3 separate regions of the Homo sapiens genome follow, and regions 1 and 2 are each linked to region 3. Evidence: fine-mapped QTL for protein levels in blood plasma. A gene starts in region 3. Each other region holds a variant in brackets. All regions are shown on one strand. Distances are from middle to middle.

Evidence for each region. PIP is the chance, under the fine-mapping model, that this variant and not a neighbour inherited with it causes the effect. The UK Biobank Pharma Proteomics Project read protein levels with antibody pairs (Olink). The fine-mapping took linkage between variants from a reference panel, not from the people measured, so its PIPs are less certain.
Region 1: its variant is fine-mapped to the plasma level of the CTSO protein (UK Biobank, PIP above 0.99).
Region 2: its variant is fine-mapped to the plasma level of the CTSO protein (UK Biobank, PIP above 0.99).

Annotation. Positions count from the first base shown.
Region 1 is chr4:156,022,247-156,027,479 of GRCh38, forward strand. No RefSeq gene overlaps it. Among named protein-coding and RNA genes, the nearest start is that of CTSO, 71 kb to the left of the region's middle. The variant G/A (reference allele first, on the strand shown) is at 3,336.
Region 2 is chr4:155,923,683-155,928,915 of GRCh38, forward strand. CTSO (cathepsin O) reads right to left here. Exons shown (of 8, transcript NM_001334.3): 7 at 4,654-4,746; 8 at 436-2,388. The coding sequence ends at 2,354. Among named protein-coding and RNA genes, the nearest start is that of TDO2, 23 kb to the left of the region's middle. The variant G/C (reference allele first, on the strand shown) is at 3,185.
Region 3 is chr4:155,951,059-155,956,291 of GRCh38, forward strand. CTSO (cathepsin O) reads right to left here and starts at 2,808. Exons shown (of 8, transcript NM_001334.3): 1 at 2,655-2,808. The coding sequence starts at 2,789. RefSeq lists an enhancer at 3,919-4,213.

The DNA.
Region 1 (5,233 bases), 71 kb after region 3:
TCACTGAAATCGTGACAATAGGTCAGTAGGAGAAAAAGGCATAGAAATTTGTTAATCTGCACGTGGACATGAGAGTCACAGAAATATGAGACTCAAAGGCCAAATTATTGAGACTTATATATACCTTCTTCACAGGAGAGAGGGAAGTGGGATGCTATAAGAAATTTTAGAAGGGTAGTAAATGATTTTTTACAGGAAATAAATGAGCTCAAAGAACAATTTCCTTGGATAAAGTTCTTCTGAGCTCTGGGGGTGGTGGTGGAAGGTGAAGAATAGAACTTCACTGTGAACAAAGTTGTCTTATTATACAGATAAAGTCTCCCAGGTAAGGTCTCAGAGTTGCCCCCATAAGAATACATGAAAAGTCTGTCTGCACATGGTGACAACTCCCAGTCACTTCTCTTCTACAGTGGTTAATCTTTCCTGGTTAGTTGGTGAGATCCCTAGGGAGGGAGTCTTAAGAAAATTGCATTTCTTCTGGAAATAAGTTTCTCCAGTCAGATAAAAAAATTCCAGAGAGAATCCTTGCTGGTGCTTTGGGAAAGAAAGAAGATCAGAGAGATTAGGGGGTGGGGGAAGGTCAGAGAGAAACTTTGATTCTGAAGCAGCATCTAAGGCCTTCCAGTTTTAGTTCAAAATGTTCAGTGTGTCAAAGCACCAAATTTTGGGGGTATCATTTTCTGAGCCCTAAATACGTAAAGAATATTACATACAACATACATTCTTGGGCTAAAAGCTAGAGTGAGAACCTGGAAGAAGAGCAGAAAAATCTTTTGAATCTTCTTTAATTGATTCATTATTAATATATGTTATAAATGATAAGGCATGTTATTGTAGGTCAGCTTCAGAATACAAGCTTATAAGAAGTGACAATCTACAATAGTCATGGTGACATCTCTGAAAATGTTTGTTGTACAAGTTCACAAAGCTATCTTTGGTGGAAGAAGTAATGATCAATCCTAATTGTACTGAGGTCGAGTCCCTGGATCAGGCAGTGGTCCTACGGGAGCAGGGATTATCACAGTGAACTGTGCTCACTGATGAATACCTTTTAAAGATGAGATGAAACAGTAGTGCCTCTTCTACACACGCAGTGAGTCCAGCCTCACAACAGAGACAAAACTGAGCAATGTGTTTCCCAGTCCATTATTTTCCCTGTTGTCCTGGCTTAATCCTTATGCCTTTCAGTGTAGTTTTTTTTTTAAAAAAATTATATAACAATTACTTCAGGTTACATTCATAAATAAGATATCTAAAATTGTCCAAATGGAAAATAAGAATATCTGAGAAAATCCACTCATCCTGATTTGAAAGGTAATGTTAGTTTGGATAGTTTCAGGCTAAATAAATTAAATGAATGATAAAAACATAAATAAAATTAGCCGAGCATGGTGGCGGGCTATTTTAAATAAAATAAAATAAAAAGTTATTTTAAATAAAATAAAATAAAAAGTGTGGCCTAGACATGGTGGCTCACGCCTGTAAACCCAGCAATTTGGGAGGCCGAGGCAGGTGGATCACTTGTGGTCAGGAGTTCAAGACCAGCCTGACCGATATGGTGAAGCCCCAACTCTACTAAAAATACAAAAATTAGCTGGGGGTGGTGGTGTGCGCCTGTGGTCCCAACTACTTGGGAGGCTGAGACAGGAGAATTTCTTAAACCCGGAAGGTGGAGGTTGCAGTGAGCTGAGATCGTGCCACCGCACTCCAGCCTGCACAACAGAGCAAGACTCTGTCTCAAAAAAAAAAAAAAAGTGTAAAGAGTTCTGGAGGATAAAGAAGGAGGTATAGAAAAGAAAACAGTATTTTAGGTGGGCAATGCTTTTAACTTTTGATGAAATTCAAGGAAATGTGGCTTATATTAGTAAAAAAAAAAAATGATGTTACAAGAGGGGTGATAAAATAGGAGGTAGGAAGGAGATAGGCAGCAATATAAATAAATCCTAAAATGGAATAAGGAGAAATCTATTATAGTAGAAAAATTAATTATGATTTTTAAATACATCCAGAACAAGAAAGGGCAGAATTGACCCTGTAAAAACTAAATGAGTGGTATGAAGGACAAACATGATAAATTTTCTCTGAACTCAGGGGAAGAGACAAAGATGAAAATTAGTATATTTCTATGTAGAGGGAAGGCAACAGAAATACTAACTACATACCTAATTGGTTAATTGGGTCTTCTTAAGAAACAAATTAAAAAATGGAATATTACAAATATTCAGAGACATAAGCAGTGGATCGAGGACAGGATGTGAGAGAGAATCCTGAATATTGACTTCTATTTGCAGATCTACAAAGTTAAATAGGTGCCAGGTACAATTACAGGGGTGAGAAAAGTGTTAAAAGAAATGAAAAACAAAACAAAACAAAACAAAAACTAGACATATCTTTACCAAAACTTTTACTTCAAGAATAACAAATCTTATGAGATTCTTGGCAGAAATAAAAGTTAAAAAGAAAGAAAAGGGTGCTACAAATGAATAAAATTAGACAATTATCAGGCAGCATCCTAATACTAAGAATGAGAAAAAATACTCAAAGCATGAAATAGCAGGACAAAAACCAAACAGAGTCAAAACCCCAAATACCTTAACCATAGCTGAATAAAGGACAGGAATGGGCAAGTAATTAAAAAATTAGATAAAAAGAAATTCAAACACTTCAGATAAGGTCAATGCTTCAAATATGGGGCCAATTAAAATTAAAGTTTCTCTTTTTCACTACCATGTTGACTATAATTCAGTTTATATTAGTGTCAAGTGTTTTCTAAAGCTCACAAAGCAATCCTGTCATGGACGTTTGTTAGGGTCCCACAGATTAATTCACTCCTCCTTCTAAGGACTATGCCTTGATTTTCCTTTAGGAAATCACCCTTCTCTCACTCTCAGCTGATAAATTTAAAGATAACAGCCCGGGCCCGGCATGGTGGCTCATGCCTGTAATCCCAGCACTTTGGGAGGCCGAGGTGGGTGGATAACTTGATGTGAGGAGTTCAAAACCAGCTTGGCCAACATGATGAAACCCTGTCTCTACTAAAAATACAAAAATTAGCCAGGCGTGATGGCACAACCTGTAGTTCCAGCTACTCGGGAGGCTGAGGTAGGAGAATTGCTCAAACCCAAGCGGTGGAGGTTGCAGTGAGCTGGGCTGGCTCTACTGCACTACAGCCTGGGAGACGGAGCAAGACGCTGTCTCAAAAAAAAGACAAAATAACAGCCCACAAGATGACAGAGGTTGATTCAGAGATAGGCAGAGCCTATGTCAGACCTGTTGAGATTAATTTAAGGATTTCTTTTATAATCTCAAGGAAACTAACCATTCTGCTAGATTTC[G/A]TGTTGCCATAATGTAAATCTGAAGCCACTGGGGTGGTTGGAGTCGGGGGTGGTGTTTACCACGAGGAGACTGAGAATTAAGCCAATAACTCAGAATAGGCAACGCTGAGTTGGATTCTGGTGGCATTGTTTCAACTCAGCATAAAGATACATCTAAAGTCAATTCTACCTCTAAAACGTTGAGCTACATGAGCCAATCAATTTTCCAATGAGTTGGTTTGTTTTTCACTGGCAAGAGAAGGGGTCTTAACCAACATGTGTACATGCCCTTAATCTCGAGTTCTAGGAATTTATTCCAAACTCTAAGACTAATAGGTACATGTGTGTGTATGGGAGAGCAGGATGTCACCACAGAGTTAGTTTTACAATAGTAGAATGGGATTTACTAAATTACAATATAACCAGAGTGTTGAATAGGCTCTGGTGTTTTAGAATGATAACAGTATAAGGGATACAGGACTCATGATACTATCACAAGGCATCTTTTTAGATTTTTGTCCATCTATTCCAAAACTGCCAATAGCTGAGGCAACTAGAGTCCTCTAGCCCTGCTCTGTTCAAGCTATACCTGGAGCTTGGGTAGATGATATAGTTTATATATTTGCCCTGCCCTAATCTCATATTGAATTGTAATCCCTAATGCTGAAGGTAGGGCCTGGTGGGAGACGTTTGGATCATGGGGCAGATCTCTCATGGCTTGGTGCTGTATTTGTGATAGTGAGTTCTTGCAAGATCTGCCCATTTAAAAGAGTGTGGCACCTCCTCGCCCTCTGCTCCTGCTTTCATGGTGTGATTTCCCTGCTCCCACTTTGCCTACTGCCATGAGTTAAAACTCCCTGAGACCTCCTGAGAAGCTGAGGCATGTCAGCGTCACAACTGTACAGCCTGCAGAACCGTGAGCCAATTAAATCTCCTTCTTTATAAATTACCCAGTCTCAGGTATTTCTTTATATCAATGCAAGAACAACCCAGTACAGTAGATTAAAGCCCAACACGATGTTTTTCTTAGCCTTTCTTTATCTCTTATGAATATGTTTCTTCAGAGGCCTCTTTGGAGTGCAACACAATTGAGAGCAGGATTTGGGGTTTGAAAGAAGACATTTATTTATTCTATTTTTCTATTCTCAGTAGTAATCTCTCACGAATAGCTTTAATATTTTTGTTTTATTCACTTGTTTTATATTTTTCCCAATGAATATGTTTAACTTTTACAATAAAAATCTTATTAAATAAGGAAAAGTCAGAGAAATGCAATGAAACCAAAGATAATGTATTTGTAAGGAGACTCCCAAAGAGAAAAATCTAACAAGACTCTGAAGAAAGACTGAGATGTACAAATCAGAAGTGTATGTTGCAGGGGGGATGAAGGTTCAAGGATCAGTTATCTTTCAACTAAGTGTATATTCAGAATGAAAACTGGCCAAAGTAGAGGCCAGAGTGTTTTAAGAAGGGGAGAAACAGAGCAGTTTGGAGGTCTGAGTAAAAGATTTGTAACAGCTGGCATTTTAAACTTAAGAATGGAACATTAATAAAGGGAAACAAAGGGTTGCTAGGAGGGCCCAGTAGAAGTTGGATAGTAAGCAGTTTTAAGATATCAAAACCACAAAATGTAACATGCTGGTGAGGATGGAGAGGAAAAAGAACTCATACACTGTTGACAGGAATGTAAATTAGTGCAGCCATTATGGAAAACAGTATGGAGATTTCTCAAAAAACTAAAAGTAGAACTACCATACGATCCGGCAGTCTCACTACTTGGTATTTACCCAAAGATGAGGAAATCAGAATATCAGGTTCACTGCAGCACTATTCACAACAGCAAAGATAGGGAATCAACCTAAGTGTCCATCAATGGATGAATGAATAAAGAAAATGTGGGGTGTTGTGTGTGTGTGTGT
Region 2 (5,233 bases), 27 kb before region 3:
CCAGACTTTGGGTCTGGACTAAGGGACATAGAGAATAATGAGTAGGCTACTGAATAATGGAGATAAATGACACTAAAGAACATGCAACTAAGAAATGACAGTAGCCACAGGAGGTAGGTAATTCATTGATGGGTTACCAAGGTGCAGATGACCTGCTTAAATGTTTAGGATTTGTCTTAATTTTATTGATTGGGTGATTCCATAATGTTGATTCTGTTAACCAAAATAGAGGCTCTTAGAGGTAAAGGAAATTTTTGTTGGGGGTGGTGGGAGAAGTTAGGGAGGATGACGAATGGAGTTTCGGAAACACTGAGGTTAAAGTGCCTATGGAGAAAACCAAAAGCTGGATATATTAATTTAGAGCTGAGAAAACTGTAAATATAAAGCACATTAATACCGTGTTGACAAAATGTAAGCCATACACTTAAGAAGAGGTTCTTTTTAAACCAAAGTCAAATGTAGGTTGTTTTATTGTAAATGTCATCAAAATCCAGAACAGCAGAAACATATTAATCAGTTTGAAATTTTAGAAATCCTTTAGCACTTGAAAAAGAGTATTACAAATGCATCTATATCACATAGAAAGTCAGCGAATACAAACTAGACAAGCAGGACATAGTTCTTTTCTGGCATTCCAGGATAATAAGAATATTTATCAATTAAAAGGTCAATATCTGTCTTCCTGAAATAACTCCAAACCTGAGTCAACACACATTCTTTTCGGATTGGTTCTGACTGGCGTAAGAAGAGAAATACAGCATTTTGTTTTTTATTTTGTTTATCTAATCACAGGGAAGGATAAACAAAGGGCAAAAGTGAGAGAAAAAGTTAGATGTCCTTGAATTTTTTTTTTTAGTGGTTGCTACTGCATTTCATGTTTCATTTTTGTTAGATCATATACATTAGAAAAGAATGATACATTTTAGAGAAGAAATATGTACATACATAGTATCAGAAATAATTTTCTTGTATTGATTCATTTAATATGGTTGTGCTTATATTCAATCAGAAGGTCAACTCCTTTGCTCTAAGGTTCTTACACTGCTAACAAGAAATGGCTTTTTTCCTGTTGCAGGTCATGAGCAGCACACAGTGTCCTTTCTAGGCACATAGGATCATCGATCACTGTGTGGACGCAGGCTAATCAGAATTGCACCTGAAATCACTTGTGCAATTAGTGATGCAAGAGTGATCACAGGAATCAAGACTGGGAGCCAAGAGAAAGAACAAGAGGTGCACAAAGAAGCAGTTCGGATGGGAGACCAGGAAAGCTGAGGGGAAAACTGGGAAACAGATTCTGGAAAACTCACAGTTTGTTTGATACCCAGGGTTAAGAGATGGGACTTTGATAGGAGTGGTGCTTATGAATTAAGGGAGGAAGAAAGAGGTGAGATCCTAATGTTGGTAAAGGTACAGAGACAAAGGGAGCCAACCAAGTGGTAAGAAAATAGAAATGGAAAGTAAAAATGAGACTTAATTCTTTAGTCAGGGAAGCCAAGCCACCAGGAAAACTTGGTAAAGAGTAAGAGAAAGAGGGAGAAAATATGAGATAATATTTTGGTATTTTGATATACTAGAGAACAAAATATTATTCTATAGTATAAAAAGAACAAAGTAAGCAATATGATCTATTGGATTCCTATTCACAATGAAAATTATCAAACAATAATTTGTCTCTCAGGCAATGCTACTAGAAGTTACTTATATAGTTGCCTTATTGTTCATTTAATTTCAGTTTAACTGAAGCGATTTTGCCCTTTTCCTTCCTTCTACGTGGTCACTCTGCTGTTCAAAGGGTAAGCACCATTTGTTCAGGTAAAGCAATTGGTGTTTGAAATCCTTCCGATAGATACGCCATCTCAGAGGGCTGCTAATATAACTAACTGTACAAGACACACATAATTTTAGGTTGGCCATTCTTGTGTATAGGGGTAATCTAAAGCTAGTAGTTACACCCCACAAAAGAAAATAAATTCTTATGACCTCTTTGATCCCACCTGAAATATCTCACAATAAACAAACAAATAAATAATAAGCAAACAAAAACAAACAGTAGCCTTCCCCAGTTGCAGGGGCCTAAAATATCTCCTAATCTGAATTTCGTCTCAGGACAGGAAACTATTCCATAGGCTTCCTCGCAGGCTTCTGTGCTGGAGTTTGTCCCACTGACTTTGGTTGTCCATCTCTCTACAAGAAGGGAACATTCTGAAACTTAGTTTAAATACTACTAGGCCTTAGAATCTTTTGTAGGTAGTTGCTGAAACTTGAAGTTGAATAATACTTTGAAGTACTATGTTACATTGCATTATGAAAACCTTCATTTTTGTAGCTGTCTCTTGATCTGCCCAACATGTCACACAAATATAGAAGAAACGGAATCTGCAATACCTAAGGGAAAAAAAAGGAATTATTAGTCTATTTCCTCTTTAGATGCTTTTGAAATTGTAAATTAAAGCAATTTTTCATTTGGGTTCAGAAAGAGTATCTACTGAGAAAATAATGTAATGCTTATCACAGCTTGTCAATGTAAACATGGTATCATCAAAAGCAGATATTAGAAGAGATTAGGCATATTAGAAGTATGCCTAATATTTTTGTTTGAAGAAACTAAAATAATTTTAAAGATTTTAAAAATCCACAACAAAAACTACCTGTTAACTGAATAAATGAATGCATCTGGAAGCTGTATTAAACTAATACATTATTTCTTAGAGGCAAAATAACTTAAGAAATTATTTTAAATACAATTTCATAACTCAAATTCTAAAATTTGAATGTGGGTAAAACTTTAATAAATCACGAGTGTGCTATGCTTTCTTTACACACGAGAACACAGATTGCAACATCATGGCAAAAGCAATAAATAGCCTATCTGAAGACTGGTTTTTATTATAACTAACCGTATCTTCGAAATCTCTTGCAGCTATGAAATACTATCTGCCTTATGCCATTGCTCATAAGAGTAATATGACATCATTGTAACTTTCAGGGAATACTCACTTTCAGGAAGAATTTGAATCCCTGTATGATTACCAACCAGGCATGCCCTTAAAGATTTACATTATGAAAGCAGGTAGAGAGCAGAAATTATCTCCACTCACCCTTAGTAGCTGAGGGATGGAGAAAGGTTGTGGTGAGGGACGTAGTTATAATTGAGGCAATTATGAACCAATATTTGAATTAT[G/C]TTATTTTAACACTCCTGTAAGAGATTTGAAAGCAGTCACCCCTCAGCCCAAATCCAGGATCCACCACTGCTGCAGTCGGACATAATATATGTTCAGCAGCAAGGGTTAATGATTAGCATCAGTCATTTATCTGCAAGTTCCAAAGATGTACGAGTCCCCAGTGATGCTGAAAAGTGGAGGCCTGATGGGGTTGCTAGTATTCTGGCCAATATATTTCTGTGATGTTGACTTTTTTCAATGAATAACTTATAAAAACTGTCTCATCAGGGTGATAGAACAGATCACTCATGAACTCTCATGGATTCTGCCTTATGGAATGATTGGTTAATAGTCATTGAACATAAACTTTCAAATTTTTCTGTAACTATTTAATCAGTCTCATAATCTGAAAGATTCTGCATTTAAAAAAATTGTATATATGTTGGAACAAATTATAATAAGAAATGACATGATTGCTCTAATATGTAACTTAGTTTGGGTCTAGCTTGATTCAGAAAATATGTTGATTTCTAGACCAAAAGTTTTAGAATATAGGTTTGAATATAGTTTTATAACACGGTTAAAATTCTTAACTAGCTATTTTAGTTTGGTTGGTGGTTCATTTAAAAAGTTGTGTTTCAGGCTGGGCGTGGTGGCTCACGCCTGTAATCCCAGCACTTTGGGAGGCCAAGGAGGGCAGATCACGAGGTCAGGAGATTGAGACCATCCTGGCTAACACGGTGAAACCTCGTCTCTACTAAAAATACAAAAACAAAAAATCAGCCAGGTGTGGTGGCGGGAGTCTGTAGTCCCAGCTACTCAGGAGGCTGAGGCAGGAGAAGAGTGTGAACCCGGGAGGCGGAGCTTGCAGTGAGCCGAGATCATGCCACTGCACTCCAGCCTGGGAGACAGAGCGAGACTCTATCTCAAAAAAAAAAAAGTTGTCACTCAATAAAAAAGCATGTTTGGTATTTGCCTAAGCCTCTCAATTCTAGTGGGTGTTTTGCTAGAATTTTGTAGGTGGCAAGGGGCATATTAAATCACAAACAATACTAATGCTTAGTTTTCGTATATTTTAAAACAAAGAAAAACTCTTGATAATCATTGAGCAGATATTATAATACAGAAATTAAGAAAAATTTATAGTTATGAAATGTAAATTTGGAACAAGAAGACATTTCTGCAGGAGTCCAGTCTCCTAAGCTGTGTGTTTATCTCATTTTTAAAGCAATTAACCTTGGTAAATTATTACTTTATCTTATGTTTTGAGATATATATGTAATATATATTTTTTACTAAGGTCCCTCTTCCTTTTTCAAATACTAATATGTTTAACAGTTCCTCTTGCAAAACACTTTTTTTTTTATCATTTGGTTAAAGGACAAAAATTATTACTGCTAAAGTGGTTTGAGTAGATTGTAACTCTAAAATATTCAAATAATCTCCTTAATATTTATATTGAGGTTTTAAACACAAACTCATGACTTACCACAAACATTACTTCCCATTTTGACATGGGCATAACCATCTACTCCCCAAGAACTTCCCCAGGAATTCCGCACAATCCAATATGGAGTGCTTCCTACAGTGAAACATAAATAGTAACAAATCCTGAAAACTCAAATTTGTTATGAATGTTTAAGTTTCTTTATTTTAAGTTGGATTCTTGCTAAGGATAGTAGCTCTGAGAAGAAGATTAAAAATGTAATTTAATGGTAACTTAAACTACTTTATTTTAACTAAGTAAACCTGAGCAGTACTTACGGACACTCTCCAATCAGTAGAAATATATGTTTGAATTCACTTCCCTTTATACAGGGACTGCATAAAATGAAAACAAACACTAATTTCCAAGGAATCAGAAAAAGAAAAAAGAACTTTTAGATACGTATGATAAAATAATATGCACTTACCTTTTCCCAACAATTATTCTAAATGTTCCCGATACAGTTTTATATCAACAAAAATTATCATCATTTTAACAGGATATCCACTCAAAAATTGACAGGTGGAATCTGACAAGACATTTACATTGGGAACAGGCCCCCCAAATCCGGCCATAAACTGGT
Region 3 (5,233 bases):
GCTATGGCCATCTATTTACACATAAATAAATATTCCTAAATATATAAATAATCTTATAATAATATAACCTGTGTCATTACGGCAACTGGTCTTAAGGTAAAGCTTTGGAAATTTTATGTAAAATCACATGTACTTTGGCATAGATATTATTCTAAAGTGAGTGTATCAAGCAAATTTTATTGGATCCAATATTGGGTCTGTGCCTCCCAAAAGGATAAGAATACCAAATGTTCTGTGGTAAAATAATGAGCATCAGTAAATATGAGGGCATAGCTAGGTTTTGGCACAAAGGAGAGTAGGCTAAATCCAATAGTTAAGAGCTTCCTGAGCACTGGAAGTTTCTAAAGGAGTGAAAGTGCAGAGATAAGGGGTGCCATCCAAAGTCAGGTGTCTTGTGAGGCATCCCATAATAAACCATAGTGGAGTCTAGTTTTCACTGAACAATACTATAATATTTTGTGGGAAAGTCATGGGCTAACCTAACTTTCATTTAACGTGCATTCCTGGGAAACTTACAAAACTATCTAAGGCTAAGATTAAAACAAATTTTAAAACCTTCACCATTCTCTAAACCCATGACCATGAAAGACATTACTAATTAATCAAGGACTTTCTTGAACCAGATCTTCAGCTGCAAACCCCTGAATCATCAATTCACCAATGAATTAACTTGATTTCAACAAGAAGTTTCACGGTTACCAAGGAGGCAAGGCCCTTTCCACCTTTCCCACTGTCCAGCTCTCTATCCCAAGTCCGAACAGCAATCTCCAGCTAACTAATCTAACTAATTCCTGATGATCTTAGATGAAAGACTTTCATCCCAAATCCATCCATCTCCCCCACTTCCCTCCTCCCGTCCATGGAAAAAATGTCTTCCATGAATCCGGTCCCTAGTGCCAAAAGATTGGGGACCACTAAGGTAGAAAATCGGTTTTAAAGCATTCTTGGATAAAGTCCAACTAAGCACCGAGAGGTGTTCAGTTTCCAGCAACTGTGCGTTGAAGCCTCAATGTTCTCTTTTTTGGGTATCCATCTCATGAAGCAAATTCTTACAGGCAGCAATTGCTTTGAAAATTTTTTCAGTATTTCTTAACCCGAGGTTTTTAAAATGTACTAAGAGTCTTCATAATTCGATCCTCCTCCACTTCCAACTTTCCATCTTTCAACCTGTTTCTTTGTATTTCTCCTGAGAAAAGTTACATTTTCTAGACATTCATCAGGGTATGGCCTCTTTACAGGACCAGTATGAGTCACTACATAAATTATACACATATATATTTATAAATTATCTAAAATCTAAATAAATGTTAAAAATATATTTATAAGTCTAGCCCTTTGAGCTTTGTCCTGAAATATTATTTTTAGGAGCCTGACAGTGTGTTTATTTATTTAGCCAATGAATACGTTACCAATAAAGGTGAAACTGACTTTTCCCCTAAGGGGTTTCGTTTACCAGGAAAACGAACGTAAGTTGAGGATAGGGGTAGAATACAGGCCAGAATTTTGTTCTTGAAAGAGTAAGAGGACTTCTGGTTTTGAAAGCTAGAACTGAACTCAAGAATAATAAAGTGGAGATAACAGTACACATCTCGGTTTGGACAAAACGTAAGAGTGGACAGAATCAGGGAAGGCTGGCCTTCCTAAACATTGGAGCTTTCCAGGAGAGTCGGGGGAAAAGAGCACAGCTATGAAATCCTGTGAGAAATTCCAACAAACACCAGGAAAAAAGATACACTTCCTTGAGCAATATTACTCAACTCAGACTTATGTTTGATTCAGAATGAAAGAATTTTCTTTTCCAATAAATTAAATCATGATAATGGCATCTTTCATGAATTTAAAAATGTGTTAAATAGTATCAGCTATCTAGAACATAGTGAGGCGAACACTAAATCGGCATCCCTTGCAGTTTCCTTGGTTTCAGGAAAATCATTATTTGTGCTCAGCTAACTGGTCCCTTCCAGAGTTTTCATGCTAGACTCAAATCTAAGTATTTATTATAAATATTATAAAATATAAATTATATTATATTTCGTATAATAATATGAAAAGGAAATTAAATGCTTCTCTTTTCTTCAACTCAGTCTCCGCCAAGGCAGGAAGAACTTTTAAAGTGGTGCGTTAGTTTAAGGAGAATCATAAACCATCAGGATTCTTTAATCTGGCTAAAGACAGGCTCTTTGTTTCTAACTTCTGATCACTAGCGCCCTCCTCGGGAAAAAAAAACACGACAGGTTTCTTCCACCAACAGGCTGCTCCCTGTTTCTGGTTCTCATAAAAGAGAAATAGAAGAGCTTTGGAAGCCAGTGGCAACGATAGAGGGGATTGCTAAAAGGGGGTGCTTCTTCCCACCAAGGACACTTTGGACGTATCTATGGATTTATTTGGGTGCGTCCCAAAAATCCATAGCGACAAATCTCTTCTGGAAAATCAAGTCTTTTGGTTAGCAAAGGCATGGGGGAGTGACACCATGGCACAAGGAGAGGGGAGAGAGAAGCTGGCTTTTGCACCCGCAGCTCAGGGCCCCAGACGCATCGCAGAGCCACGGGTGCCCACGAGCAGGGTCAGCTCTCGGGGGCCCTCTTCCGCAGCCCAGACCCGGGACAGGAAGTGAGGGAGCAGGGACAGATCCCGGGGAGGCGCGCGCTCGGTACCCGGAAGGCGGCGGCTTCACGCTCGCGGCTCCGCGGCCAGGTCGGGGTGAAGGGGGCGCGGGAGTCCGCATCGCCGCCGCCCCGGCACAGCAGCCACAGCAGCCACGGCAGCCACGGCAGCGCCCGCACGTCCATTGCGGCGCCCGGCTCCTCTGCCGCCCGCGCGGCCTGTTTTCTCTTTCGGTTCCTCGGCTCCTCCCAGCCTGGGCTCGAGGGGCGGAAGGAGCTGGGTTGAGTGCACGATGCTGAGATTGACCCTTTTTTAGGTCCCCGGTGTTCTGTGACTGAAAATCCGGTCAGCTGGAGGCTACGGACCTCCTTGCTGAGGCTAGTTTTTTTGTTTTTGTTTTTGTTTTGGAAGAGTCAGGCACTTGACCATGTGCTTTCGAGGTTTCACTTCCATCCATTAGAAAAAAAGAAGCCTGAGAGTCATTCTTTTGTGTGTGTTGAGATCAGGTCTCACTGCAGCCTCGACCTTCAGGTTCAAGTGCCTCCTGCCTCAGCCTCCGGAGTACCTGGGACTACAGGCGCGTGCCACCACCCCAGGCTATTTTTGTATTTTTAGTAGAGATAGGATCTTGCCATATTGCCCAGGCCGGTCTCGAACTCCTGGACTCTAGTGATCCACCCGCCTTGGCCTCCCAAAATGCTCACAGGTGTGAGCCACCTGGCCTGCCCTGTGAGCCACCGGAAGCTGCCTTTTTCCTTCTTGCCACAATCCCTAAGTTCAAGACCTAGTTCTGAAGTGATGTGGGCCAATACATAGAGTCATCCATTCAGCAGATGTTTATAAATACGTAACAAAATTGTACAGATGTGAAAAGCATACACAGTTTTTGGATCTATTATGGCAGTTTCAAAACTCTTGAAGCCTGTTTCTCCGTTTGCAAAGGAAGATAGAGCCAAGTACATAATTTGCAGGGTTCCGTGTAAACTGAAAATGAAGTTCCCTTGTTCATAAATTGTGAAGAATTTCAAGACGGCAACAGCAGAGCATTAACCCAAGCCATGGGCCTTCTAAGCACCCACTTCTGCACAGGTCACACACTCATGAACCTGGCTCTACCGAGCCTTTCTATTATCATCTATTCTGAACAAGGCTTCCATGTCTGTGAAATTCATATCATTACCCTTGTAGATTTTTAGAACTAACATCAGATTTATGTCTTTAGTTTTTACCTAGGTGCAGTGAGTTACAATATTCTCCAATGCAAACTTCGTAATAAAAATAAAAATAATGTTCCGAGTATTAAGAGGAAAGACACAAGAGTTTTTTATGTACGTTCATGATAAGATATATTGCTCTTGGCAAGTGTGGTGATAAAGATTTTATTTAAATCATAAGTTCACAGAACGATGTTCATGTTTACCTCAGCAGTTCTTTTGTACTTAGCCCTTTTTTGTGACTCATACAAGCACATACTTTTCTTTTTAAACTGAACTTTGCTTTCAGATCATAGTCCCTGTTTATTGACAACCTACGGAGTCAGGAAATTTAAATATAGGCAGTCATCTTTACTTTAGGATAATTGGTATTGTAAAAAAGCCCCTTGAACTAAACTCATTTCAGGAGCTCACATCAAGTATTTATTGAGTACCTGCTAAGTGTCAGGCATTCTTCTAGGTAATGAGGATATATCAAGTAAGTGGATAAGTGACTAAAGGGATGAAAATCCCCATCCCTATGGGACTGATATTTCAATTGATTTACATCAACAAATATTTTATTGAGTACTTCCTAAGTGTCAGGCATTGTTCTAGGTCATCAGGACACATCATGGATGGAAGTGCATAAGTGACTGAAGAGATGAAAAGCCCCACCCTGTTGAAGCTGGTATTTCAGTGAGGGGGAGAGACGCAATAAAATTACTACAGGTTGAGGATCCCTTATCCACAATGCCTGGGTCTGGAAGTGTTTCAGATTTCAGATTTTTTCCCCCCAGATTTTGGAATATTTGCATATACATAATGAGATCTCTTGGGGATGAGACCCAAGTCTAAACACAAAATTCATTTGTGTTTCACTTATGCTACTGACTGAAGGTAATCTTACTGACTATTTTAGGTAATTTTATGCATAAAACAAGGCTTTGAATGCATTTTGACTATGACCCACCACATGAAGTCAGGTGTGAAATTTTCTAGGTGTGGCATGATGTCAGTACTCAATAAGTTTTAGATTTTGGAGTATTTTGGGTGTTTGGATTAGAGATGCTCAACTTGTACATGTGTTAAAGGACAATAAATCCAGATAAGGAGCATCATCAGTGTGAGGGGTGGTACTGCTATTTTAAATAAGCTGTTCAATACTGTCCTCACTGATGAGGAGAGTTTTGAGCAAAGATTTGAAGGAGAAGAAAGTGAGCCACATGGATATTCAGATATCCAGGGAAAGAGAAGCTAAGACAGAAAGAACTGTCAACACAAAGGCCTTGAGATGGAAGTTTGCTTGGCACGTTCCAGAAACATAAAAGACGTCAGCATGGATGGAGTAAAGGAAAAAAAAAAGGATGGGGGAGAGTAGAATATGAGATAAGTAAGAAGCGCACAGATTGTGAAGAATTTTGGGTCAGTTAAAA